4 linked regions of the Homo sapiens genome follow. The protein of the gene in region 1 purifies or fractionates together with the protein of each later gene. This does not show direct contact. Each region holds a gene or a part of one and is shown in the gene's direction. Other genes may lie near its edges. The genes, in order: PNKD, LSS, CIP2A and DIAPH3.

Evidence for each region.
Region 2: the proteins of PNKD (region 1) and LSS purify together in Homo sapiens (affinity purification with mass spectrometry; 3 studies listed by BioGRID and IntAct, with this or other methods). This does not show direct contact.
Region 3: the proteins of PNKD (region 1) and CIP2A purify together in Homo sapiens (affinity purification with mass spectrometry; 2 studies listed by BioGRID and IntAct, with this or other methods). This does not show direct contact.
Region 4: the proteins of PNKD (region 1) and DIAPH3 purify together in Homo sapiens (affinity purification with mass spectrometry; 2 studies listed by BioGRID and IntAct, with this or other methods). This does not show direct contact.

Annotation. Positions count from the first base shown.
Region 1 is NC_000002.12:218,266,380-218,273,518, forward strand, and holds the start of PNKD (probable thioesterase PNKD isoform 1 precursor), read left to right. Parts: upstream 1-4,139; 5' UTR 4,140-4,156; coding exon 4,157-4,223; intron 4,224-5,001; coding exon 5,002-5,170; intron 5,171-6,190; coding exon of another isoform or gene 6,191-6,383; exon of another isoform or gene 6,384-6,568; intron 6,569-7,139. Other genes in the region: AAMP (angio-associated migratory cell protein), read right to left, coding at 64-208, 468-607, 1,115-1,234, 3,003-3,158, 3,587-3,707. UniProt on the Homo sapiens protein: Probable thioesterase that may play a role in cellular detoxification processes; it likely acts on a yet-unknown alpha-hydroxythioester substrate.
Region 2 is NC_000021.9:46,225,752-46,232,713, reverse strand, and holds the start of LSS (lanosterol synthase), read left to right. Parts: upstream 1-3,939; 5' UTR 3,940-3,968; coding exon 3,969-3,982; exon of another isoform or gene 3,983-4,114; coding exon 4,115-4,280; intron 4,281-5,023; coding exon 5,024-5,162; intron 5,163-6,962. UniProt on the Homo sapiens protein: Key enzyme in the cholesterol biosynthesis pathway. Catalyzes the cyclization of (S)-2,3 oxidosqualene to lanosterol, a reaction that forms the sterol nucleus.
Region 3 is NC_000003.12:108,558,414-108,565,438, reverse strand, and holds part of CIP2A (protein CIP2A), read left to right. Parts: coding exon 1-84; intron 85-2,194; coding exon 2,195-2,313; intron 2,314-4,597; coding exon 4,598-4,790; intron 4,791-5,410; coding exon 5,411-5,485; intron 5,486-5,571; coding exon 5,572-5,682; intron 5,683-7,025.
Region 4 is NC_000013.11:60,160,929-60,167,773, reverse strand, and holds the start of DIAPH3 (protein diaphanous homolog 3), read left to right. Parts: upstream 1-3,845; 5' UTR 3,846-4,007; coding exon 4,008-4,187; intron 4,188-6,845. UniProt on the Homo sapiens protein: Actin nucleation and elongation factor required for the assembly of F-actin structures, such as actin cables and stress fibers. Required for cytokinesis, stress fiber formation and transcriptional activation of the serum response factor.

The DNA of each region.
Region 1 (7,139 bases):
GGTGTATATCCCGGGATTCGGCCTCTGCACCCAGGAAAGGTCACTCAAGGGAGGTGCTCTCACCATCAGGGAGGACTCGGCCACAGGTGGCTGGGCAGTTGGGACCCTGGAAGGTCTTGCAGTCACCATTCGGGACTTTCCACATCCAGGTGTTGCCGTCAGCTGTGCCCGCCAACAGGACAGGTGCCCGAGGATGCCACTCCATCCACTGGACAGGGAGGAAGGGGCAGCAGGGAGGCCCGTCACCCCATCCCACCTAGAAGCCTGCCCCATGAGCTCCACCCAAGGTTTCCTGCCTCTGGGGTTCCGCGGGGACTTTCCAGGTAGCAGGTAGATATTCTTCCTGTGCCTTGGGGCGCATTGGCTCAGAGCTGGCTTGGCGCAATAAAGGCAGAACTGGCCTCCCAAGCTTGCACCCCCAACAACCCAAGGCCCCACAGAGCTGACTCCCGCTCTGATGATCTTACCTCCAGGTCTCCCGCTTCAAAGGACCAGACCTCCTCCTTAGTGTCCACCTGCCACACTTTCAAGAGGCCACTCATGTCCCCTGTGGCCACTAGAGTGGAGTCATGGCTGAAACCAGCACAAGTCACAGAGTCTTTATGGCCTTCAAAGAAAAGTGGGCAGAAAACAGAGGAAAAAAATAGGGTACCTGGTGCTGGGGGCATGTGATTCTGGTATCTGGCCCACTGAAAGGACCAGCTAGGAAAAAAAGAGGGGCGGGACTGAGCAGAACAGGTGCTGGAACTCACCACCACTCTAGGAACCAATACTCCCATGTCTGCTGGGAGACACTGCTGGCCCTCACTCAACCAGACCAAGTCCCAGCCTCCTATGCCTTCCCCCTTCTGTCCACTCTACACCTCTGCCCGCCTGCTCCTATACCAATGTGGCCTTCTCTGGCCTTTCCTGGATTCCCTTGGCCAATTAGTGCCTCCTGCCTCTGTGCCCAAAACACACTAGTATTCGCCCCGTGTCCCTGGGGCCCAGCACAGAGCTGGCACAAAAGAGATGTCACTAAGTGGCTGTTGGATGCACAACCTCTGCAGGTCAGCCTCCTAAGATCTCCCAAAAGAATATGACCTCTCCCAGGCCTCTACCCCAGCCCCCTCACCTGCACACTCAAAGAGCAGCTCCCCATCGCTGAGCCGCCATACGAAGGCTTTGTCATCTTCACCCCCGGTCACTGCCAAGGTATTGGTCTTGGGGTCCAGGCTCACACAAAACACAGATGCTGTCCCAAGAGATATTCCATGGGTAAGGGGACAGAGCTCCCACCTAGGGCTCTGTCCTTCACAATCTTCAGGAAACCCACCCCCTTTCACCCAAAGCGTGTCTTTCCTCCTGGAAAACACAGGTACATCCAAGTTCTTCTAAGTTTCAAGAATTGGGTTGTTAGATCCTTCCCATATTTGCCAAGCTCCCTATTTGCCAGAGTAGATCCCCTCACTGTGTGACTCCCGTCACCACCCAACACCAATGCCATGGACAAGAGGTGGGGACAGGTGCAGGGCTTACAGTTGTCAGCATGGGATGCCACCGGGGTTGGGTACAGAGCGAGGAGAGCATCACGTTAAGGGTTTTTTGTTTTTTGTTTTTTGTTTTTTGAGACAGAGTCTTGCTCTGTCGCCCAGGCTGGAGTGCAGTGGCACAATCTCAGCTCACTGCAACCTCCACCTCCCAGGTTCAAGCAATTCTCCTGCCTCAGCCCCCTGAGTAGCTGGGATTACAGGCGCCCGCCACCACAACCAGCTAATTTTTGTATTTTTAGTAGAGATGGGGTTTCATCATGTTGGTCAGGCTGGTCTCGAACTCCTAACCTTCTGATCCACCCGCCTCGGCCTCCCAAAGTGCTGGGATTACAGGCATGAGCCACCGTGCCTGGCAACAGTTTCTTACTAAGAACTAGCACTTGAGAAAGTTATATAAAATATGCTCAAAAAGATATAATTATCTCTCATTTTATTTTATTTTTTTGAGATGGAATCTTGCTCTGTCGCCCAGGCCGAAGCGCAGTGGCACAATCTCAGCTCAATGCAACCTCTGCCTCCCAGGTTCAAGTGATTCTCCTTCCTCAGCCTCCGGAGTAGCTGGGATTACAGGCACATGCCACCACACCCAGCTAATTTTTTTTTTATTTTTAGTAGAGATGAGGTTTCACCATGTCGGCCAGGCTGGTCTTGAACTCCCGACCTCAGGTGATCCACCCGCCTTGGCCTTCCAAAGTGCTGTGATTACAGGCATGAGCCACCGCACCTGGCCAATTATCTCTAATTTTATACTCACTACTTTTATTAACTTTTATCAAAGATAACTTTTTTTTTTTTTTTTTTTTTGGAGACAGACTCTCATTCTGTTGCCCAGGCTGGAGTGCAATGGCGCAGTCTTGGTCCACTGCAACCTCCGCCTCCCGGGTTCAAGCAATTCTCCTGCCTCAACCTCCCGAGGAGCTGGGACTACAGGCGCCCGCTACCACGCCCAGCTAATTTTTGTATTTTTAGTAGAGACGGGGTTTCACCATATTGGCCAGGCTGGTCTGGAACTCCCGACCTTGTGATCCGCCTGCCTGGGCCTCCTAAAGTGCTGGGATTACAGGCGTGAGCCACCATGCCCAGCCAAATTTTTGTATTTTTAGTAGAGACTGGGTTTTGCCATGTTGGCCAGGCTGGTCTCGAACTCCTGACCTCAAGTGATCCACCTGCCTCAGCCTCCTAAAGTGCTGGGATTTCAGGAGTGAGCCACCACGCCCGGCCAAAGATAACTTTTTAAAAGAAAACTAAGAGGTTAATCAAGGTTAACTGGCAAAGTAGAGGGTGTCTCGACTGATGCCAGAAGCCAAGCAATCATCCATTCTGCCACACTTTCCCACCTGTGGGCTCCTCCAGCGCAAGGCCAGCATCTTGCCCATCTCTGTGTCCCCCATAACGTTCTGTCCATGGCTGATGTTTAATGCTTACACGCCCACCTAAACTGATTTGAGGTGGATCGCCTCAAAGACCTACCTGAGTGCAATGCAAAGGTGACCTCGCTATCGTCGGGGCCCTCCATGCTGCCGACCACCCCTTCCTGGGGTTCTAGAACCCAGCCCTCTTCGTTGCCCTCTTCCTCCTCTTCTTCCTCAAAGTCCACATCTTCCATCTCCTGGGCCAGGTCATCTGCTTTGGGGAGAGGGTTAGAAGATGGGGCTCGGGAGGCGGTAAGAGGTACGGAGAGAAGCATGAGGAGGCCTGAGGCTGGGGCGGGTCATGTGGCGAGAAGGGAAGGTGGAGTCAGACACACCGGGGTCCGCGGGGGCGCGCGGGACACAGGACGGGAGGCCACGGCTGGCCAGAGACCGTGCGGTAAGGGAGGGCCAAGGGGATGATGGGAAGGGGGTGTGTGAGGGGAAGGGCCAGAGGAGGCGTCAGGGAACCCCCACCCCAGCCAGGCCTGAGAACTAAGTGTGAGGGTGGGAGTGGGGGAGGAGGGGAAGAGGGATATCGGTAGGAATGACCAGTCGGGTGTGGAGGGGAGCGGGGAAAAGCAGGAGTCAGAGGCCAGGGGTGAGCGTCTCCTGTCCCATGGCCTGAGGAGCGGCAGTTCTCACCTGGGTCCGGCGGACCGGGATCAAGTTCTACCACCTCGATAATCTCTTCATCACCATGGAAGCTTAGGGTCTCCAGTGGGGGGGTGTCAGCAGCAGCCCCGCTTTCCGATTCGGACTCCATGCGGCGCAAGCGGCGGATCCACTTCTCTGGGCCCAAACGCCTCCCAGAGTCAGCTCTGCGCGACGACGCGGAACTCGAGCCCCTCCTCCCGGCAGGAAGTAGGCGTAGGCGACTCCCCAGCAGGAAGAGCGACGGCCGTTCGGCCAATAGCTACGAAGGTTGGCTGGCCGCCTCACCAATCACAGAGCGGCATTGGAAGATGGGGCCGGGGCGTGGCGGAGAGAACCCAAACTCCGCCCCACCTGACTCCGCCCCCAACTGGAGGGAAACAAGCGAGCGCGCGCGCCTCCGGGGTCTCCTGGGAAGAGTAGTTCTCCTGGGTCCGCTCTGCGGGCTTCTGGGAGATGTAGTTTCTGGTCTGTAGGCAGGACGGAAGGAGCGGGGGAGGCCCCTTACGCAAACTACAATTCCCGGCGGGGAGCGCGGTGAAGCGGGGGTGGGATCTGAACATGGCGGCGGTGGTAGCTGCTACGGCGCTGAAGGGCCGGGGGGCGAGAAATGCCCGCGTCCTCCGGGGTAAGGAGAGGGACCCCGGGGAGGGCAGGACTGCAGAAGATCCCTTTTCTTTCACGTCCAGCCCGACGATAGCAGGAGGTCAGGGCTCTTGGTTCCTCCCCACACTTTTCTGCAAGATCTTAGAGTCTGGGGGTGCAGAGATGCTCTTTAGAGGTCACCCAGTGCATCCCCCCGCCTTCGGGTTGCTCGACACCTCCGGGGTCTTGCTGCAAGAGGGAGCTCCTAGGAAGCCTGTTGGACTCCCGCGCTCCAGGTGTTTCACACTCACCGCAGTGCAGAGGAAAGAGCCCCGGGCTTCTGGAGGTTTGAGTTCCAGCCCCGGATAATTAGCAGTTTGACCTTGGGCAAAGCAGTTTTTCTCTCAGGGCTTCAGTTTCCTCTTCCGTACAGTGCAAGGGATGGAGTAGACTATCTTTAAGGTCCCTTCCAGTGCTAACATTTGCAGTTTCAAAACCTTTTCCCGGATTTCCTTCATACGTCTTATGTGAGTCCCACTGCAGTCCTTCCCATGCTGTCGTCTGAGGAAGAACAGCGAAGCTTTTCGTCCTGGCACCAGGGTGATGAGCCCGCAGTGACGTGGAAGTGGCTTCCAAAGGTGCCACCTCGGTGGCGATTTTCCCATTTCCCTTTGGATTCTCCTTGGCACTTCTTACTTCAGACTGCAGTCACTCCCCTTCCCCAGATCTCAGCCGCTCCTCCCAAGCCCTTACTGCCCCCCACCTCCCCGCTTGCTTTCTTCTCATCTCTTCTTACTGACCTTCCTTACCTCCATCCACAGGGATTCTCGCAGGAGCCACAGCTAACAAGGCTTCTCATAACAGGACCCGGGCCCTGCAAAGCCACAGCTCCCCAGAGGGCAAGGAGGAACCTGAACCCCTATCCCCGGAGCTGGAATACATTCCCAGAAAGAGGGGCAAGAACCCCATGAAAGCTGTGGGACTGGCCTGGTGAGTTTTAACCACCCCTTTGCCCACCAACGGGGCGTGGCTTGTAGGGGAGGGCAGGACTTAGAAACTTCTCCAAGTTTCAGGTGGCGAGCTGAATCCAAAGTTGTGGGAACAGAATTGTTGGGTTCGATTGGAATCTCAGAGGGGTGGGGCAGTGGAGGTGGGAAAGTATGTGGAATTGAGAAGACAGTGGGTTTACTGTGGAGTAAGCTGAGTTGATCTGATTCAGACTTGGGTCCCTGGCCTCATCCTCCCTTTTGGGAGCTTGGAGTGAGACCCAAGTTTAAGTAAGTAGTTCGTTGAGATCATGTGAGCTTGTACTAGTTGTATAGTAGTACTCAGAAGGCGTTATGAACATTGTGATTGGGCTCTGACTCTGACCTTAATACATATTATTGACCAATATTAAAGAGAAAGGAGGAAGAAATCAACATTTTTTTCTGCATGTGAGGTGTGCCAGTACTTTGCCATGTAATGTTTTAGTGTTTGAGATAAGTATTACATCCCCATTTCACAGAGGAAGGAACTGAGACTGAGCTAGGATTCTCACCTAGTCTGTGACTCCATGCTCTTTCCCCCATACCAAAGTGCCTCCCAAGCAGTGGTTACTTAGCTTAAGAGGGGAAAACTGGGAGGGTACCTTGGCCAAGTCTCAGAGAGGGAAAGCGTCAGGGCTGCCTGGAAAATCCTGCACAGGTGCTGTTGCAGGAATGCAGGGCTCGTGCTGAGGATCAGGCTCTAGGCGGGAGGAGGAAAGAGGCAGGCAGAGACCCAGCCACACTGGGCCTTTTGTGCCATGTTTGGACTTGGCCAGGAAGTGATGGAGTTACGGGGTTTTAAGCAGGGAAGTGACAGGATCTGATTTGTGTGGGTCCCTCCAGCAGCCAGCACAGAGGATGAATAGACTATAAGAGGTATTGCAGCATTCATGCAACTGATGAAGCTAGAATGACTCCCCCCAGCTCCTCTGGCTCAGGCTTGGCCCCTCCCCAAACCCCGTGCACATCTCCCCACCCGTAGGGCCATCGGCTTCCCTTGTGGTATCCTCCTCTTCATCCTCACCAAGCGGGAAGTGGACAAGGACCGTGTGAAGCAGATGAAGGCTCGGCAGAACATGCGGTTGTCCAACACGGGCGAGTATGAGAGCCAGAGGTTCAGGGCTTCCTCCCAGAGTGCCCCGTCCCCTGATGTTGGGTCTGGGGTGCAGACCTGAGGAGCGCTGCGACCCTCCTAGGCTATTGACTGTTAAGTCCTCAGGTTTGGCCCAGATTCCAGTTCGTGCCTCTGAGGTCCACCAGAGGGCGCATGAAGCCCAGGCTGTTGCCAAACCCTACCCTGCCCCACACCAAGGAGCCAGCCAAAGGCAAATAAAGTTATTGAGTGTTTAGTAGAAAGGAACCAGGTCTGGGTTTGTGAGTCCCTTGGGATGGGAGGGGCAGAGGGTGGGGCTGGTTACTCATGTGTGCTCCCTCTCACAGAGCTCAGTGTTCCCAGCTGGATGGTGGGGCAAACCCAGAGACTTAAGTGCAACCAGCCTAGGCCCCGGGCCCTCGGGACCAAGCCCTCAGAGCTGCCGGCCAGGAGGGTGGGGTCCCGCTCAGCCTTGAAACAATAAAGAGAATCAAAGAAGGTATTCAGGGTGTGGAGGCAAAAAAAAGCACTGCTCTTTACTGAGTCCAAATGACTCGACTCTGGGCCTCAGTTTCCTCATTTGTTTTGTTTTTTGTTTTTTGTTTTTTGAGACGGAGTCTCGCTCTGTTACCCAGGCTGGAGTGCAGTGTTGTGATCGTCAGCTCACTGCAACCTCCACCTCCTGGGCTCAAGTGATCCTCCTACCTCAGCCTCCTGAGTAGCTGGGACCCCAGGTGAGTGCCACCATGCCCAGTTACTTTTTGTGTTTTTTTTTTTTTTTTGGATTTTTTTTTACTTATTTTTTTTTTTTTTTTTTGAGACAGAGTTTCACTCTTGT
Region 2 (6,962 bases), on another chromosome or scaffold:
GAATGAGAATAGAATTTTAGATTGGAAATCGTTCCTTTGTGTTTTTGCTTTTTTTGTTGCTGGAAATTTTTGAGATCATCTCTATTCCTGGTGTTCTCAAATTTCTCAATGACATTACTTCATATGTTGCCTCCCCATTCCCTCCCCAACCCCTGCCCAATTTATTGTGCTGGGCACTTTGTAGTCCTTTTTTCTAGTTTTTTTGTTGCTATTGAACAAATTACCCCAAATATAGTAGCTTAAATTTGAGGAGGATTCAGCTGGGCAGCTTTCTGTTGGGATCTCTCATGCAGCTGCAGTCAGGTATTGGCTGAGGTTATAGTCATCTGAAGGCTTGACTGGGTCAGTGGTCCAAGATGGATCACTTGCATGGCTGGAGGTAATGTTGCACTGTTTTCCCCAAATGTCTGGCTCATGCTGATGATGGTGCTTGTTGGAAACTGTCAATGGGTACAGTCTGCCAGCTAATAGGTTTGTTTTTCTACTAGGTCATAGTTGCCAGTGTTTGCAGGACTCTTGTGGGCCAGCTGCTCCAGAGGGATCCTCCCACTATCTCATGCTATCTGGCTAAGTGGGAGAAGTGAGCCTGGACCCACATGTGTAGACTTTAACTCAATCTGTCTGCTTTCAGTGGTCCTCAGCTATGCCTCATGCCTGAGGTAACACCTACTCTGATTCAACTACTGGAGACTTCCTCCACCCAAGTAGGAGAGGGGATCTATGGTCATACTGTTCCTCACAAAAATTTTCCACCAGTTATTCCAATTTCTGCACCTTCCTGGTATTTGCTGGCAGGAATGGTCTCTTGTTGGCTTCACCCACAAACGTAAGTCTCAACTTTCTCTAGCTAACTCAGTTATCACTTCTCCATCCATTCCCAGTCTCTATAATTTTGTTGACTTCTCTTGCTTACTAGTGTCTCCTCTCCCATTCTTTGTGGGGTTTTTTTGGTCTTTTATTACTTTATGTGAGTAGGGTTTGGGCAGGAAATGGAGGTTAATGTTTATGCTCAGTCTGCCATGTTTAACTGAAAATTTCTTTCAAAATTCTGCCATTAGGCTTTTCCCCCCATGTCTCTTTAGATAGCTCTTGTCAGTCACCAATACATTGTTTTGTTGCATCCAATAATAAATTCTGTCTTCATTTTGCAATCCCTTCAAAGCCTCAGCAAAGATCACCATGTCTTCACTTATATTATGACTTCATATTCCTCTGGTTTTCCTCCTCTCTCTGGCCATTCCTCTATACTGGAAAAGGTCGGTGCCCCAGGGCTCATTCTAGAACTTCTCTTTTTTATGTGCATTTCCTAATTCATCTTGTCCAATCTCATGATTTCAAATACTACCTGAAAGCAAATGACTCCCAAATTCCTATCTCTAGCATTATGTTCTCTCCTGAATGCCAGCCTACTCAATATTTCACTTGAATGTCTAATAAGCATCTCTAGTATAACTTGTCCCCACTTTAATCTGAATTTTCCAATCAAACTTTCCCTATTTTAGGCCAGGTGTGGTGGCTCATGCCTATAATCCCAACACTTTGGGAGGCTGAAGTGGGAGGATTCCTTGTGGCCAGGAGTTTGAGACCATCCTGGGCAACATAGCGAGACCCCGTGTCTCTACCAAACTTTAAAAAAATCAGCCAGGTGTGGTGGCACACGCCTGTAGTCCCAGCTATTCAGGAGGCTGAGCCCGGAAGATCACTTAGCCCTGGAATTTGAGGCTGCAGTGAGCTAATGATTGTGCCACTGCATTCCCACCTGGGTGACAGACTGAGATCCTGTCACTAAATAAATAAAAGACACCTCTATTTTAGTAAATGACCACCACCATATACCCAGTTGTTGAGGCCAAAATCCTCAGAGCCTTCTGTATCTGGCTTAATGAATAAGCTGGATGCAGTAGTATGTAAGCAGATAGGAACAGTGTTTTTTCTCATGACTGCCCCTAGAAGCTTAACTGTGTCAATTCTCAGACGTAGTTTACAGCTTTTTCTTTTCTTTCAGACATTAAAAAGAGCGGATTATTTTACTCATAAAAAGTCCAGTCCATTAAGATATCAAAACTCAAACTCTTATCCAGTTGAAACCTCTTCCCTCACCTAGCTTTGCCAGGTTCAGTGTGAGATTCCATCCAGGCTGAAGCCCCTTATCCCTATTCTTCATGTTTCTACATGGAGGAACTTACCTGGAGAAAAACTTCCAGCCTCTTTCTGCTTCCAGAGAAGTAGAGTGACTCATTTGATTGAATTTCAGAGAACAGATAGGGTGGAGTGTGCTCAGGCTCCTCTGGGTACTCTTTCTGGGGTCTGTGGGTTGACTGGAGGGGTGTCTTCTGGTGGGCACTCAATTGCATAGTGCTTGGTGAGGCAGTTTCATGGCCTAGAGGCTGGGGGATATGTTTGTCTGACTTAACGGGTGATTTAGTAGCTTGCCCTCTTGCTTGCAGATTTAAGCCTTGTCCTTCAAGCTAGGTTTTTAATTTGTGGCAAAGCTGATATTTTGATACCCACCCATCTTATTGCTGTGTCTTTTTCATCCGTTTCTGAACTGGGATAGGAAGAGGTGATTATCCTTGATTGTCTAAAACCCCGCTATTCCACTGTGGGGAAGGTGCCTGTGGGTATTCTTTTGTCCACTCTCTCTTCCAACTTTCTCCTCCGGCTTGCTGTGGCTCACCGCCCCTTCGAAGTTAGGCTGGGGGTAGGAATTGAGGAGTGGGTGCCGAAATGCTCACTAGGCTGGGGCAGTTGTAACTGGATGTCAGGGCTTCTGTGGGCCAGGTGAAGACATGCTGGGGTCTTCTGTGGGTCCTTGACCTGACTTACGGACCACTGGCTGCAGCCTCCAGACGTCAGCCATGTTTCCAACAGTCAGACGCCCCCTGCCCTGTTGCGCCCGGCTGTCCCTTCCAAGTTCGGTCACTCGCTCTGCCTCCATCTTCCTCTTCCCTCTGCTGCTAAGGCTTTTCACCTTTAATTTCTCCTGGGGCCACCCCCAACTCCAGCGACCCCGTGAGCAGCTGAGGCTCTACCGCGCTCGGTCCTGGCCAGCGACGCAGCCCTTCCCTGGCGGGGCTCCAGGGCTTCTGGCCCCTGTGGTCCGCCAGGTGTGGGGGCCCACGGCCTCACCGCGCCTACCCCACTCCCCCCGGCGAAGCTACGCGGCGCTCAGCTTCCCAGGGACGCCGGCGGCGCCCTCGGCTCCTCCGCTCCGCCCCGCCCTCCCCCTGGTCTCGCACTGGAGCCGACGGCCCGCGCCCACCTCACCTCAGGGCGGCCTCCCGCCCCCACCCCCGGCCCCGGCGTCCGGGCAAATCCTGCAGCGCGAGAGCAATTCCCTGCCACCCGACCTTCGCACTCGCTGTCGCTCGCTCGAGCCTCGCTCCCCACGTCCTTCCTTCCGACCCGCGGCTGGACCCTCCTCACAAATTTCTCAGAGAGGCTCACCTCAAAGCGCGGCGCACGAGGCCGGGCTCCCGGGACGCAAGCCTCTAGAGGGCGCGCGAGAGGCCCCGCCCCCGCCCTTCGGCCCCACCCACCAGCCCCGCCCCCACCCGCACCCACCAGGCCCCGCCCCCACCTCCCCACCCACCAGCCCCGCCCCCACCTCCCCACCCACCAGCCCCGCCCCTCATGCCCCGCCAATAAGGCCCCACCCGCCTCCCCCGTCCCGTCGCCTTCACCCACCATCCCCGCTCCCTCAGGCCCCGCCCCACGCCGCATGGGGCACCAAGCGCTCCACCACTGTGGTCGCCTGGCACACCCCGGGGTCACGCTCGCGGCGCTCTGATTGGTTGCGTGGGCGTCGGCCCACCTAAGCCTGAGCGCCTGCCGAGGCCTGCGCCTGCGTAGTGCGCGCGGGAGGGGCGGGAGGGGCGGGAGGGGCGGGAGGGGCGGGGCTGGGCGGCAGGTCCCGGGTGCGGACATCTGGCAGCTGGCAGTGGGCGGCGTAGAGCACTGCAGCAGCAATGACGGAGGGCACGTGAGTCCCCTCGCCCCGGGCTCCTGACGAATGCGGGGTGGTCCTAGGTGCTGAGGAGAGCGCGACTGGGGCAGTGGGCCGGCGGCCGGCGTTGGGGCGGGGCCTGGGTCGCTGATGGCCGGTGGTCCTCAGGTGTCTGCGGCGCCGAGGGGGCCCCTACAAGACCGAGCCCGCCACCGACCTCGGCCGCTGGCGACTCAACTGCGAGAGGGGCCGGCAGACGTGGACCTACCTGCAGGACGAGCGCGCCGGCCGCGAGCAGACCGGCCTGGAAGCCTACGCCCTGGGGCTGGACACCGTAAGTTGCTTCCGCGGAGCGTCAGCGAGCTCGGGACCCTGAGGGGTGAGCCGTGAGGAGCACGTTTTCTCTCAGAAAGGCGGGTGGGAGGACCCGGCCAGCGACGCCCATCCCCAAGGCGAGCGCCCACGGGAACTGCGTTCGCGGGCCCCTCCGCTTCAGCCCCTTCATCTCTAAACCACGCATAGGAGACTCCTAATGTTTTATTTTTTAGCACCTTATTTTGAGATAATTTTTGACTTATAGGAGAGTTGCAAAGATAGTTGTAACTTTGTTTTTATTCACAAAAAGTGTTTGGATCCACTGTCTTAGTTGTGTGCATTGTAAGAGATTTTGGTCGTCAGAGTCTGCAGTGTAAACAGGGTCTCCTGCCGAGCCCCGGCCACCGAGGGAAAGGCTGTGCCGCCCCTTGGGCCCTCTTTGAGAGGCCCGAGTCCCAGGCCCAGGTCGGCACCCGTGCCCCACCCTACAGTCTGGGTGCCTGGTTTATTCCAGACATCTTGGAGAAGTTGTGAAGAATACATGACTGGCAAATAAAGCAACGAAAATGTGCAGCTGTTCTTTTACTTTGCTGAGGTGTGATGCTCTCATCAAAGAGTTTCAGACTTTTGATGGAAACAGCTGAAACTTTTAAAGTAATTTACATTCACTGTTTTGACTTGGGCTGTATGTGAAGAGGGTTCCTCTGGCCGGGCAACAGTCCCGTCAGCTATCTCTTTTTTTTTTTTTCGATCTCTTTGCAGAAGAATTACTTTAAGGACTTGCCCAAAGCCCACACCGCCTTTGAGGGGGCTCTGAACGGGATGACATTTTACGTGGGGCTGCAGGCTGAGGATGGGCACTGGACGGGTGATTATGGTGGCCCACTTTTCCTCCTGCCAGGTAGGAGTATGCTGCCCCAGCCTGATGGTATGGCCACCCTGGATCACCCTTGGGATCCTGGCCCAGCCTGGTCTAGGGTTTTGATGAAGCAGGTGAAAATCCAGGGGCTCACAAGAAAAGGGCTGGCAAACTCTGCCCTATGTCAGAGTCGTCCTGCTATTGGTCTAGGGGATCAGCTAGCCTTGCCAGTGTAGGGTGACAGGCTCTCTGATAAGAGAAGCAAGTGGTTCTCTAGGGCTCTGTGTTGCCTTGAGGGAGGAGGAAGGTGGGCTTTGAAGTCTCAGTACAGGATGGGATGGACATTCCAGGTGGAAGGCCCAGCCTATGCCAAGGGGCTGTAGGTGGGCAGAGTGGTGGGTGGGGAGCTGATATCTGCTGTGAACTTCCTCGGGGCTATTGCAGGAGAGCTTCAGGTTCAGGCTGGTGAGTAGGAGGAGCATAGCAGTTGGACTGCCTGGGTATTGAACTGATTTGGCTACACAAGACTATTTTGCATCCTGGGAGTGTTTCTCTACAGAAATCCTCAGCCTTGTAAAATGGGAAATTCCCTCCTATGAATTTATGCAATAGGACTTTTTTCCCTAGTGACTTGTAATCACATTGTTTCAATGACGTGAATTCCTACATAAATAGGTTTTGTTTCTGTGATAACTCTTACTGATACATCATTTTCTTTTACTACGCTGACTTTGTAATAGATAGAAAGTCCTTATATACCTTTGTTGCCTTTCTTTTTAAAACATCTCTTACCTGTGTCTATTCATTTACTCATCCAAATTGCCTTTATCCTGATTTTGTCCCAGACTTGAAATGAAGTTGCAATAGGCTTATATGTTAGTTTGGGAAGAGTTGGCCTTTAACGTTAAAAACAGTTCCATGGTGTTTACTGTAGGCCAAGCCCTGCTCAAGGCCTGTTCTTCTTTTAGTCCTTAGAATAAGCCTAATGAGATACATTAGAAAGCTGAGGCACATTTATTCCAGGTAACCAGACTAGCAGGAGGAGCACTGGGATCCCCATCTCTGCTTTGACTTCTAGCCCTGCTGCCACCTGGACTGTACAGCATTGAGTTTTTCTGTCCTGGGATTTGAGGGCCTGTCCTTAGGGGAAGTCAAGGTGCTCTTCTTCCCTTGGCCCCATCAGGGCCTGTTTAGACTGTTCTCAGGGCTCGTGGTAAGGCAATGACATAGAGTTGGTCAGGAGATGGGTCAGCCCCACTTTGCCTCTGTAGCCTGACCTGTGACAGGATTGGAATCAGGTTTGGTCATGTGCACAGTGTCAGGCATGCAGTGGTGCTTGGTCAGTGGGGATTACTGTGTTGTTTGTTCTTGCTGCTTTGGCTCTGGGCTTAGCTGGCTGGGACCCTTCCTGTGGGCTGGCTGTGAGTTGGAGTTTTTTTGTATTTTTTTTTTTTTTTTGAGACAGCGTTCGCTCTTGTTCCCCAGGCTGGAGTGCAATGGCACAATTTTGGCTCGTTGCAGCCTCTGCCTCCTGGGTCCAAGTGATTCTCCTGCCTCAGCCTCCTGTAGGGTCCAGCCCCACAGGGTCGGTAGGTTTTTCTCCCTGTGTGCGGAGATGAGAGATTGTAGAAATAAAGACACAAGACAGAGAGATGAAAGAAAAGACAGCTGGGCCCGGGGGACCACTACCACCAAGACGTGGAAACCGGTAGTGGCCCTGAATGCCAGGCTGCGCTGATATTTATTGGATACAAGACAAAGGGGCAGGGTAAGGAGTGTGAGCCATCTCCAATGATAGGTAAGGTCACATGGGTCACGTGTCCACTGGACAGTGGGCTCTTC
Region 3 (7,025 bases), on another chromosome or scaffold:
GTAATTTTGAAAACTCTTGATTTGATTAACAAACTTAAACCATTGGTTCCTGGTATGGAAGTAAGCTTCTACAAAATACTTCAGGTGAGTTTAAACTCTTCAAACATTGAAGTTTATTCATACATAAATGGTCCTAATATAAGTTTCTGTTTTAATATTCTTAATCTTTAGAAGATAATTCTCTTAGAATTGGCAATGAGAAGAAAGTTTAAAGTTGTTGTCTTAAGCAGTTATAATAGTCTCACTGCACAGTTATTTTATATACTTTCACAGGAATTGAACATAAGTGCTCATGACACTAATGTAGAGAATGTTCACAATAGTGCTGCTTCCTCAGCCTTTTCCTTTCTTGTGTTGTATTTGTATATTTCTTCATTTGTTTCTGTTGGCATTGGAGGAAGAGTGATATTTGTTTTAGGGTTTTTGTTTTTGGTTAGGGTTGATGTAGGGTATTAAGGGGATAGGGAGACAGCTGGAAGAAAAGGATTGTGATAATTAGAAGGGCTGTGCAGAAAATAGCTAACTCACAAATTTCAATGATAATAGTAGCTGAATATGATCTCTAGCTGTTATCAAAAGGCAAAGTACAACAAATTTAGTTCAAAGTTCTAACTGGCTTTTATTTATGATTCTAGAATTTGGCAGCCTCATTCTATAAAATAGAATGAATCATTCCCCTGGGCTAAGCAGAGAAGGTTGACTTTATAGACCAGAAAAGGGCTGAAGAAAGCACAAATAGGGAACTAAAAGCAGATTGGTCATTTCAAAGTTACTTTTCCTATAGAATTATAATAAAGGGGGCTTCCTTATTATACTAACTCAGGTTGACTGAAATCTCCTGGTTTTTTGGAAAACTGGCCCATTTCAAAGTGCAGTTTGATTACATGGCACTCATCCAAGTGACTCCTTTCTGGTTTGATCTGGTCTGCTAAAGCATAGTGGAGGAGACTACTCCAAAATATTAGCCTCTTAAAAACTTTGTGTAATAATATCTACAACACCTACCTTTACAACAGATGTTTAACAAAAATGAGTGAATTAAATTACTGCAGTAGCTTAACAGAGACATCTCTAGTGACTGTATAGACAGTGTAGAAGCCAAAACTGAAACCTTAGGCAGGGACCACTGGCATGTTTTGAGATTAAGGGACTGAGTTCAAATGTTGACTCTACTGGTTCTTAGTACAGGCTTGAGTAAGTTATTTCACCTCTCTCGACTTCAATTTCCTCGACTACAAACTGGAAATAATGAGGCTTACCATTGAGGGTTTTGGAGATAAAGCTCTGCTCTTATCACAGTTCTGTGACACTGGATTATACTCAAGTACCTACAAGGTACTCAATATTTTAATTATAAGGGATTTATATTTTAATATTTTCTTCACTAATATCTCAATGTATTTTTAAAGGAGTCAAACTGATGTTATGTCCATTATTTAAGATGTTTTTCATAATACAGGTTGAGCATCCCTAATTTGAAAATCTGAAATCTGAAATGCTCCAAAAAACAAAACGTTTTAAGTACCAAAATGAGGCTCAAAGGTGATACTCAAAGGAAGTGCTCACTGAAGCATTTTGGGTTTTTGGATTAGGGATGCCCAACCAGTAAGTACATGTAAATATTCTAAAATCTGAAAAAAATCAGAAATTTGAAACACTTCTGGTCCCAGACATTTTAGATATATGTTGATGACTTGGGGCTTACAATACTAATGTAAAATATTTACTGACATAAATGATTGAAGTAACTGTATTTTTTCGATCTTTAAATTTAAATGTTCTAATTTAATTTGAATTTTACTTTTTATTTTATAGCCTTAATTTGGAAGTGATTGGCCATTTTTTTCTTTTAAATGATAGCTTGGAAAAAAACATTAATTCTACACATCAGTCAGTTGTGGGTTTTTTAATCCACGAAAATATATAAGGCATAATTTTTATAGGCACATTTGAAAGCATTCAAAACCTTTGCCAGATTTTTTTAAACTGTTCATATTGATTGCATTGCAGTGTAAACAGCTATAACAAGGTATAATATATTCAAACTATATAGACTATAATATATTCAAACATTAGAAACATTTTAGAATTTGCCTAGAATTAAGATTTACATATATTTACTCACCTCCTATCTAAAAGAGCTGACATTGTTTATTCTTTCTGCTGCTTCTTTTTTGGTTTCTGATTTATTTAGGACCCACGTTTGATTACTCCTTTGGCTTTTGCTTTAACGTCAGATAATAGAGAACAAGTACAGTCTGGACTGAGAATATTATTGGAGGCTGCTCCACTGCCAGATTTTCCTGCTTTAGTGTGAGTTGTAATCATTTGCAGTGTATCTCTTGTGGTGTTGGAATACCCTGCTATGTCTCTTTAGTCCTCAGTATAGATACACAAGCAAATTAGTGAATTGAAGACTTCATTGTAATAGTAATTTTTCAAGTGATTTCTAAAAATGTTTGATTCTTATAAATGAAAAGTTCAGATGTATACTCACTCAGGGAAAAGCTAGATCCAGGCAGTTAAATGTTCTTCAGGTACTATCCCTCTATGTCTCTAGCCACTTCTTTTTAATGATAACTTCTGGACACTCTTAAGCCTACATCCTCCCAGTTTAGTTCCTCCATAGAAAGAGCTTTTCCTTCCTGACTGTTTAAGGAAAAGGTCTAAGCATTAGTCATTGACCAGGCCTGGGTTATCCATGAGAACGATGTGGACTAAAAGTTAGTTGGGATAGGAGAATAGGAGAGTTCCTAAAGAAAAAAATCTGAACTTTTATCAGAAAGTGGAAAAATGACAACCAGGCAAAATTTTCTACTATACTCGTTACTTTCAAGCAATAAGAATATTTGCAATTATGTTTGAAAAAAAATTCAGATTTCAGGGCTCTCTGAACTAAATGTCTATTAGGAGTCTGGTTTAAAATTTTTTTAAGTCATTTATATGTATGAATTTGTAAAAATGGTTTGAATAATTTGAAGTAGTTGATAAACAGGTAAGATATTCCCTGTATACCGGGATCAGCAAACTGGCCAGTGGACAGGCATCTGTTTTTGTAAATAGTTTTATTGGAATATGGCCACACCCACTCATTTTTATACTCTGTCTATGTTGCTTTCACTCTATAAAAGCAGAATTGAGTAATTGTGACAGAGACCAGATAGGTCCTTGAGTCTAAAATACTTACTATCTTGACCTATAAGAAAAAGTGCTGGTCCATGCTATATGCTATTCACTGATTTAGCGATTCCACTTTTCAGAATTAGCAATTTAGGTCATCATACCTTAAGAGTTAAAGTATGGGATGTAAGACCTAGAGAACATATAACCAAAATTCCCTTAATTTTATAATAAATATTTTTTTAACAGCAACAACAAAAATACACAGGAAGCTTTTCAAGTTACAAGTTAAAAGTGGTCTGTAAAGCTGCTCTATTTTGTGATGGCCTGCTTGCATAAACTGGTAATCTGACATGAAACAAAACCTTAAGAGCTTCAAAGGGGAATCTGCAGCCTCACTGAACATGGAAGTCTTATCCTCTGCCTCTGTGTGTGAGGCCTTCCCACCATTTTGACTGTGTCTTGGCATTCCCTGTCTTATTTGTGTTGTAAATAATTTTCTCTTTGGGCATTATCTCAGATGTCCATTTTATGCTTACTATTTAATGCCCTTATTTGACATTATCTTGGGCGTTTAATAAACTGAATGTATATTATGGATGCATTGGTAGGTAGGGTTTTTGTGTGTGTGTATTTACTTGTTTGTTTTCGAGACAGGGTCTCACTCTATCACCCAGACTGGGGTGCAGTGGTGTGATCATGACTCACTGCAGCTTCGACCTCTGGGGCTCAAGTGATATTCCCAACTCAACCCCCTGAGTAGCGGGGACCACAGGCTTGTGCCACCACAACTGCTTAATTAATTTATTTTTTTATAGAGGGGTCTCACCAGGTTGCCCAGGCTTGTCTCGAACTCTTGGACTCAAGTGATCCTCCCAAAGTGCTGCGGTTACAGGTGTGAGCCACCATGCCCAGCCTATAATAAATTAGGCTGAGTGCCTGCCATCTTGCAGTTTGCACTTTAGTTAAGAGATAAGTGAAAAAAATATTTTGTTTTGTGGTAGAAAGCGTGTTCCAGATAAAGGAACAGCTCATATGAAGGCCTGAGGTAGGAGAAAGAGAGGATTTTAAAGGGTTAGAATGGAAGTCAGGTTGGTGAAAAGTATGTACTGAGTGAGAAAGGAAAAGGACTAAGGACGTAAAGGCCAGGTGATATCACCCATGATAAGAACATTATTCTGACCAGTACCAATAACTTTGTACTTATTACAGATAATCCACACTCATAAACTAGTCTTACAATGCCTCCAAACCAGAGGTGAAGCTGTCATTATAAAAGGTTAGAAACAGAAAAGTGGGTGCTCTGGAAAATTCAGAATATTTCCCAAGACTTCATTTCATCATGGTCTCCAAGATTATTTGAAGACTTCTATTCAAAAAAAGGACCCATTCTTAAAAATTCCCTAATTCTGCACTAAGTCTGCCTTTTCTTCTATTTTCGTATAATTTTTTTTTCCTTTCTTTGACTCCCATTCAGACTTGGAGAAAGTATAGCAGCAAACAATGCCTATAGACAACAGGAAACAGAACATATACCCAGAAAAATGCCCTGGCAATCATCAAATCACAGTTTTCCAACATCAATAAAGTGTTTAACTCCTCATTTGAAAGATGGTGTTCCTGGATTGAATATTGAAGAATTAATAGAGAAACTTCAGTCTGGAATGGTGGTGAGTGAAAAAATAGCAATTATAACCTGGTACATATTAGCTATATGTCAGTCCCAATTATAACGTGTATCTAAACACTGTCAGGTACAGATTTCACTATTGAAACCTTAATATAAGAAATAACAATATTCTGGAAAATTTGGAAATAAGAAAAATCAGTCAAAATTTCAACATTTTGCCGGGTGCGGTGGCTTACGCCTGTAATCCCAGCATTTTGGGAGGCCAAGGAGGGTAGATTGCCAGAGCTGAGGAGTTCAAGACCAGCTTGGGCAATATGGCGAAACCCCGTCTCTATTAAAAATACAAAAAATTAGCTGGACGTGTTGGCTCATGCCTGTTGTCTCAGCTACTCTGAAGGCTGAGGCAGGAGAATCACTTGAACCCAGGAGGCAGAGGTTGCAGTGAGCCAAGATCATACCACTTCACTCCAACCTGGGTGACAGTGAGACCCATCTCAAAAAAAAAAAAGAAATATTTGTGACTTACCTGATGTAGCATTTGTTTTTATTTTGTTACTCATCATTAAGTTTTAATGATTTAGTTTTGAAGTAGGCATTTATTTTGTCATTGTGTCAAAATATTTTATTAAAATTTTAAGTTTTTTTACTCTTAAAATGTAGGTAAAGGATCAGATTTGTGATGTGAGAATATCTGACATAATGGATGTATATGAAATGAAACTATCCACATTAGCTGTGAGTATAAGCTTATTTTAACAATGTGTAATAAGCTTTAATAGATGTATTCCTAAAATGAAAATTAATGATATGTTTTCTTGTAGTCCAAAGAAAGCAGGCTACAAGATCTTTTGGAAACAAAAGCTCTAGCCCTTGCACAGGCTGATAGACTGATTGCTCAGCATCGCTGTCAAAGAACTCAAGCTGAAACAGAGGTGTGTAGAATATAAAGACACATCTGATTTGTAGAAAAATTAATAAGTAAAACATGCAAAATATTAGTTATGTATTTGTTACTCTAATTGAAGTAAATTCTCCTTAGCATTTGACATGCCTCCTTCCTTCTTCCTGAAATTCTGTCCTCTTTAATTTTGGTTACATCGTTACCTGATTTTTTTTTGCTACCTTGTATTATTTTCCTATGTTATTTATTTTGTACCTTTAAGTGTTGGGGACTCTGGGACTTATATTCTAAACCTTTTTCCTTTAGTTATGTGTTCTGTGGTTTCAATGGTTACCAAAATAGTAATGTTCCTAATTTTATATGTCAAGCACAGATCATTTTCCTGAGCACTATGTGCCTATGTTGCTCCATTTAAATATACAGCAAATACCACAAACTCAGCATAACCAATAATGAACTAATCACCCTTCCCTTTTTAAAATTATTCTTATGTATTCCCTCTTCTGTTTTTAGTGTTCTACAAATAAGAACCCTGGAAATCACAGTTTTTACCTCCTATAATTATTCACCAAGTCCAGTTGATTCTACCTTCTAAATATTACTCTTTTCTGCCCTATCTCTGCTTCTACCACTATTTGTTATAGGCTGGATCCTTTTCATTTTTTGTATGAATCATAGCAGAGCAATTAGTCTTCCTACCTGTAGTCTTCTACCCTCTTCTCAGATACTCTACAGCCAGTCATCTTTCCTTGGTTCTACCCCCTTCACCTAGCCGCTCCCCCAAGGATCTCTAAGGCAGTAAAATGATCCTGTCCCTCTTGTGCTGAGTATCTTTCACAGTAGCTGCTATTGCTTTCAAATATCATTAAAATTCTTTAGTTTGGCATATAAGGATTCTAACTATATAGGCCTCAATCCACATCTTTCATTTCTGCGCATTCTTTGCAGTCAGCCATGTTAGGCCACTTTGCTTTTTCTGAAACTTGACATATTCTCGTATTTCCTTGTCGTGGCACTTGACTTTCCATGTCTGGAACACCATTTCCTCTCTTCTGCCTAACTCATAATCCTTCAGATTTCAGTTAAAATATCCTCATTACCCAGAAGCCTACTCTGGTCTCCTTCCCACACGTGTTTGACGATCCTTCCTCTGTGTATCAAACCTACGCTTATCTCTTAATAACATTTTTCAAACCACGTGGAAATTCTTTTTTCCCTCACTCATGGTATCAAAGACTGCTTCTATAGCTCCAGGCCCTAGCATAGCACTTGGCACATAATAGGTGCTCAGTAAATTTGGCATTGTATTATGTACATATATAATGTATACCTTAAGAGTGAACTTACTGCAGTAATATGAAATTCCCAGCAGAT
Region 4 (6,845 bases), on another chromosome or scaffold:
GCACTTCTGATCCACTGGCTTCAAGCAGGGGTTTCCATTATACCTTCTTTGGGCTGGATTAATTTGGAGAGAGGCACAAAGAACTCAGGAAACACATTTTCTGGTTTATCATGAAGGAGATTTTAAAGGATATAGATAAACAGCCAGATGACAAGATACCTAGGGTGAGGTCTGGAAGGGCCCTGAATGAGCTTCTATCCCTGTGGAGTTGAAGTGCACCACCCTCCCAGAATGTGGATGAGTTCCTGTTCACCTTCCTGTCAGCCTCCATGTGTTCAGCTCTCTGAACCCTGCGTTTTATGTAGACTTCATTGGTTGTTCATGATTGAAGCATGGATAATTGTGTCGAAATGTGATTGCACAAAAGGGTATGCTCTAAACCCAGCAAGGCCTGTCTGTTCTGTTCAGATTTTCCTGGTCTCTCTGTGCAGCATTCCTTTCTCTAGAGCGTGGGGCAGGACTCTCTCTGGCCTGAGGGTCTTATGACCCACCATCAGATTAGATTCCTGTCTTGGGCAGGTGAAAGGAGAGCAGAAGTTCCCAGAGAGAGATTCTGTTCCCTGAGGCCTACTTCTGAGGCCTAAAGCACTCTCACATTATAACAAAAGGCTGTAACAAGAGTTATGAAACTTATGAACTAGGAACCATGGGTGAAAATCTGTATCTATATATATATACATATATAGATAATCATAATATGGCAGAAGTGTTCAAGAAATATCTTTGTAGGTGTATGTTTGGGCTTTTCCAGGGAGACATCTAGACATGGAATTGCAGGGTCATAGGTACACATACCTTCACCTTTACTAGGTATTACCAAGTTTTTGTCCAAAGTGCCTATACCTGTTTTGCACTTCCACTATCTATCTAGGAATTCCCAACTTGGCCCAAACTTGGAAACATGGAACTTTGTAGTATTTGCCAATTTAATGAGGGTAAATGACATCTCATTTAAAAAAATTGATTAAGGATAATCACTTCCTTCCCTCAGCTTTCAACAACTTTCTCATATGGTCCATAAGAGTGAGCCATCAAAAGAAAGGCATTAATAATTTTCTGGATGTTGACACTGAACAGAAATGATAAAGGGAAGAAATATATTCCTAGATTCCAAGCTTTTCCAGGCCTTTTTTTTCACCTTCAACTTTCTATTTCCATGACTATTGACTCACTGGGGTGTATCATCTCGCTGGGTGATCAAAATGAGGGTCAGTGCATGCTGTTATGAGGTTTAAGTATGTTGGGGCACACATATAAAATGTACTTTAAAAAACATAAAACTTATACAAAGATATTTTCACTAGTACACTGAAGTTCCAGTGCATTTCTATGAGAAAAAATTCAGAGTGCTGTACGTAAACTTGAAAATTAATTATCATGGCTCCTGTTTACTTATATTTAGTACCTTCTATGTGGCAAAGACATGAGAAAGAAAGGAGCAGTCCCTGACATCAGGGAACTAGTTTGACACTTATAGCTAAGCCTCAGTGTTTTTAGAAACTGGCCTGACACTCATAGCTAGGCCATGTTGTTCTCCTGATGAACAGCATCTCACAGAACAGCAATATCAGACAGGGTCACTCTGTGACCATGATGAAGTGAGACAAAACAAGATCACTTCCATGTTTTGTCTAAGCACAGACAATAACAAGGTCAGTATGCAAATCAGAAAATATCAATGTTAAATAAATTCATGGGAAATGATTATAGACTAACCTTAGTTTTGGACTAATCTGCTGCACTAGGCTCCGGCAGACCAGACCAAAGCAGAATGGTCCCTCATGCGTATTGCCACATAATCAAAAGCAACTCTGAAACCAGCCAGTTTTCCAAAAAGCAGGAAATTCATAGCACCCAATCAGAAGGGGCCAAGTTTATCTGAGCTGGTATGCTAAGAAAGTTCCCCTGTTTTAACCCTATAAGGAAAGTAACTTTGAAACAACTCATCTGCTTCTCATTCCTTATTTCTGTTCTCTAGCTTTTTTCTGCCTATAAAGCCAACCTCCTCTGCTTAGCTCATTGGAACAGATTCTATTTTAGAGAATGAAGTTTTGCCTATTCTGGAATTGCAAATAAAAGCCAATTAGATCTTTAATTTGTTTTGTCTTTCAAAATCAAACATTCCCCTCTCTCCATGATATGGATGACTAATGCTTGTCAGTTACAGCTTTAGGCTTGTCTTTTAGCCTGCCATCCTCCTAGATAAGATAATCACTGAACTGTCTCCACTTCCTGAAGGCACTTAATCTTGAGCAACCCTTCCCACCTCTTTCCACGGAGTCTTTCCCAAATCACCTAATCAAAGCCCAAATCCTTTAAGTGCTTTCTAATACCATTTACCTAAGACACTTCATGGCTCCCCATAGTGCATGTTCTCCCTCCCTGAGTAATAATCCCAACTTCTTCAACTACAGTATTCCTGTAGGAGCATTGACAAAACTCTAAGGGCTTTACATATGCTATGTTATTTAGGCCTGAAAATGCCCCTCTTTCATAGGTATTAGTATAATTACCCCCCTTTTGTAGATGAAGCAGCAAAGAAAGTTAAACGTCATCTCCGGTATCAAATAGCTAGTAAATGGCAGGAATAAAATCTGTATCTGGGTCTGTCATCAAGATATAAGGAACTACTTGTAGTTCTCCTGACCTTGCTGTTCTCCTGTAAGTTTCCCTAAAGATTATGTGCTCTTTGAGGACAGAGCTGTAGAGTCTGGCACAGTAAAACAAATATTAAAAAAGAAAAGCTGTAGTGTGAAGACTTACTGAGAACTAAGGCTCATTTTTTGAACCTCTGTGCCAAACTCCTCAGAGTACCTAGAGTTGTTTCTTGTACCAAAATCAATACTGCATGTTTCCGAGTCTTGGCCTACACCACCTCCATATAATCAGAAGACAGATATCTTAAAGGAATAGTTCCAAGGAAAAGCTCATTTTTAAAGAGGGTATATTGATGTGTTGAGAAAACGGTGTTTGCCTTGTAGCTTGACCTTGGGTTTACACAACAAACTCTTTTGCATGGTTTCAGTTCAAGGCCCTTTGTTATGTGACCTTAAAGTTTCTTCACCTCTATGCTTTCTTGGCCTTGCTCCTGCCTGGAATGGAATGCCTTTTAAATGAATGCCCTGCCACTGTTTCCTGCCTAGTGAAAACCTATGCAGCTTTCCTTTTACCTTTCCAGATCCACTCCTTCAGATTTAATAACTTCCCTTTTTGTTCTCAAGGAACTTCTAAAACAACTGCTATAGACATTTACATTCCTTGGTTAATTGTGTTAGGGTTTGGAAACTACAGGAGACTGTGAGCTCCTGAAGGGCTCAGCCTAGCCTAGCTCTGTCTGATTTTGGGTGGACCCCTCTGCCACCCCAGAGCGAGCACTTAGGCAGGAAATATGTCCAGAAGGCTTCCTTTTGGAGCGTCGTGGGCCCCGTCGTTTCATCCTGCCTAGTACCCCTTCCAGCACCGTACCCAGTCCCAGAACTACTTTTTCCAGCCCCAGACGTGCAAGGAGAGGGCTAGCAGATGGTTTTATATCCCAGCGCTGCTCAAATGGTGGCGCAGGGCCTGTCTCGCCCACCTTCCAGTTCTGCTGGAACCCTATCTGCAAATCCAAAGAAATCCAGGCCGATGACTTCCTCCACGGTCCCCGGCGCTTCTCCAAATCTGACGCCACTCTGCGTCCTTAAGGTGAGCGGCCTGGACCGCCGGAAGGGTTGAGCGGCTGCATAGACAGGCCGCAAGGCCAATCATGTTTCGCAGTGCCCGGAAGGGGCGGTGCCTCAGCGTGTCATTGATCCGGCGGCGCGGGATTGGCCAGTCCCGGGCCAACACGGGTGGCGGGAGTTTTCAGATGTGTTGGCTGCGGCCCCGACTTCAGCGGTTGGGCTAGGCTGTGCTGACTGTTTGGGTGGCGGACCCCGGGAGTAAAACCTGTTGTCGATCCCTCAGCTTCCAGCTTGCGGCTTGCTGAGTGGCCACCTTCTTTCCGGTCCCCGGAGCTGCGGGGAAAGATGGAACGGCACCAGCCGCGGCTGCACCACCCGGCCCAAGGCTCAGCCGCTGGGACTCCCTACCCTTCCTCAGCCTCTCTCCGCGGCTGCCGGGAAAGCAAGATGCCGCGCAGGAAGGGCCCCCAACACCCTCCGCCGCCCAGTGGCCCCGAGGAGCCTGGGGAGAAGCGCCCCAAGTTTGTGAGTATCGCCTGGAGCTAGGGTGGGGCCGCTCCCGCCCCGCCGTAGGGCTGACTGCCGAGGGTGGGCCCACAAGAACTTGGGGACCAAGTTTTATTCTAGAGATCCAGAGGTGCCAAAGATCATAGATTGACAACGACCGGGTCTAGTTGTAGTTGGATCCTGTGACAAATGCCCAGATCTTTGTGTTGCCCCCAAATTTCTTAACGCTGATGTGAAAAGCAGTTCAAACGTGTATATGTATTGACGTCATCTAGGTGGACATTGCATTTTTTAAGTCGAAGTTCTCCCTTCCTCCCTAGTGTAAGAGGGTATAAGATATATCAAAATGAACTTTTAGGTGACAGGTTTTTTTTCTGCTTATTATTTTAATAAGAACTTTTAATTACATATAAGAACTTTTAAGGTAGATATAATTTTCCAAGTTGAAACAGCTAGTTTTAGAACTTGGCGGGTGGTGTGGTCACTGCTAAAGAATGTTTTGCTTAGCTTGGAAAGAATTCTAAATATTTGAAACTTGCTATTCTGGTTTGCTTGTGTTTAACACTTAAGGAAAGTGTCATGATTAACACCTTGTCTTTTCGTTGGTGTCAACTAGTGAAAGTATAGGCAGTGATGATTATTTTGGGGTTTGTGTGTGTAAATAAATCACATAGAGGGTTGATAGATTTGGGATGAGTCCAACAGAATTGAAATTTCACATTGACCACTCCACCATTTTCCTTAGGAATATGGAAAAACTGTGTGTGTGTGTGTGTGTGTGTGTGTGTGTGTGTGAGAGAGAGAGAGAGAGAGAGAGAGAGTACAGCATTTGCCTTATGTGGGCAAGTAAAAATTGTGAGAAATTTAAGTCATGATTCACAAATTAAGGGAATAATGGTTTGTGAACCAGTTGCTAACTATAACATTTAGTTAAAAATAATAGTTGAATAAGACTGAGAGCCCATATTCTGATACATGAGATATATCAGAATACTGAAAATGAGAAACAGCATAGATTAATTGAAAATGAGGAACAGCATAGATTAATTATGCCAAATTAAGTATCAAAATGGTCATAGGAATAGTGACATTTTGCAGAAGGATCAAGTATGGACTTGATCATTATCTTGACAAATCTGAAGAATGAATAGGACAGAGTTAACTTCCCAATGAAAGATTTTTGCCTAATGTGAGAAGAATCCACTAAGGCAATGACTTTTCTTCCTTTTATAGTCTACTCTCTGGGTTAATAATCTTATTTTATTTTGTTTTAACTTCTGTGGTCCAGAATACAGGAGGTGTTATTTTCTGTGACTCATTCCCAGCAAGGAGGTCATGAAAACAGGATCTAAATTAGTATTTATGTTAAGTTTCATTGAAGGATTTCATCATTTGGTTTCCAGTCTCTGTGCTGTTTTTCATTCTTATGTATGTCACATTGACCATCTCAGCATGCCATTTGTTAAATGGATTCTCATAAAGATGAAATGACATCTAAAAGATAACACTCTTAAGCTGTAAAGGTAAAAAACACATCTAAAACACTGTGTTTTTGGGTGGGAGTCTGGTATGAATCATGACTTCCAGTTAATTTAGAAGTAATTTGGACTCTTGGTACTTTGAAACTAATTTAGGTTCTTGCTTATATGGTAATTTCTTTAGTTATATCTTCCAGTTCATTAATTTTGTTATCAGCTATGTCTAATCTGCTACTTTTCTGAATATTTGATTTTAGCAATTATTTTTTATTTTAATAAGTTCCATTTGCTTATTTTTCAAATCTGTCTGGGCATTCTTGATAGTCCTTTGTTTCTTATTCATTTATTTCTTTAGACATTTCCTACTTGATTGTTCTTATTCTTTATTTGACAGTTCTGCTGTTTGCAACCTGGGCTGTCTACATTGACTCAGATTCATGATGGCTTGCTCTCTTTCTTGTGTGTATTTATCTTTGTAAGCTCATTGCTTTATCTTCACCTGTAGGATTCCAGAGATGCTTTTCTTTGGAGATAGTTTGAGTTTGTCTGCCAAGGAGCCTGGGCATGCTACTGATTTTGGACCACCTTCCTGTTGAACTGGAAATCTTAACATGGGCAGAAGTTCCAGGCACAGCTCTACTCTGTTCCTGTACTAAAGTTCAGTATCCCAGTCTCAAGACTGCTTCCTGAGCAGCTCTTCCCAGTTTGCCTACCTTTCACTGCTCTTGATTGCACACCAGTAACTCTTGTTTTTTGGATGGAGAGGGATCTTTGAGACCATCAAAGTTCCCAGCAATGCCTCAGAAAGTAATTGTACTTGTAGGTGTCAAGTCAGTCACTGTTCTTGCAGATGTCAAGTTAGTTCTTGGCTTTTTCTTGATTGGATGAAGTGACGTTATCCTAAATCTTTTCAGGTCACCCAGTCATTATCTGAGCCTGGGGCAGCTGTTTTTGATGGGAACAAGTAATATAGGTTGGTGATGTGATGGATAGGAGTAATTTAGGTGGCCAGTGTTTTGCACACTTCTGCAAAGCAGCAAGCGAGTAGTAGAATGGAGTGGTAGACTGGTCACTCCCTCCTATCTTAGTGTAAGAAAGCAGGAGCTCTGGTACCCGCTGAAATCTTGTTTTACTTTGAGTCCTGTTAAAGTTGGCAAATTCTTGTTTTCTACCAAATGTATAGTTGCGGGCTTCAAGT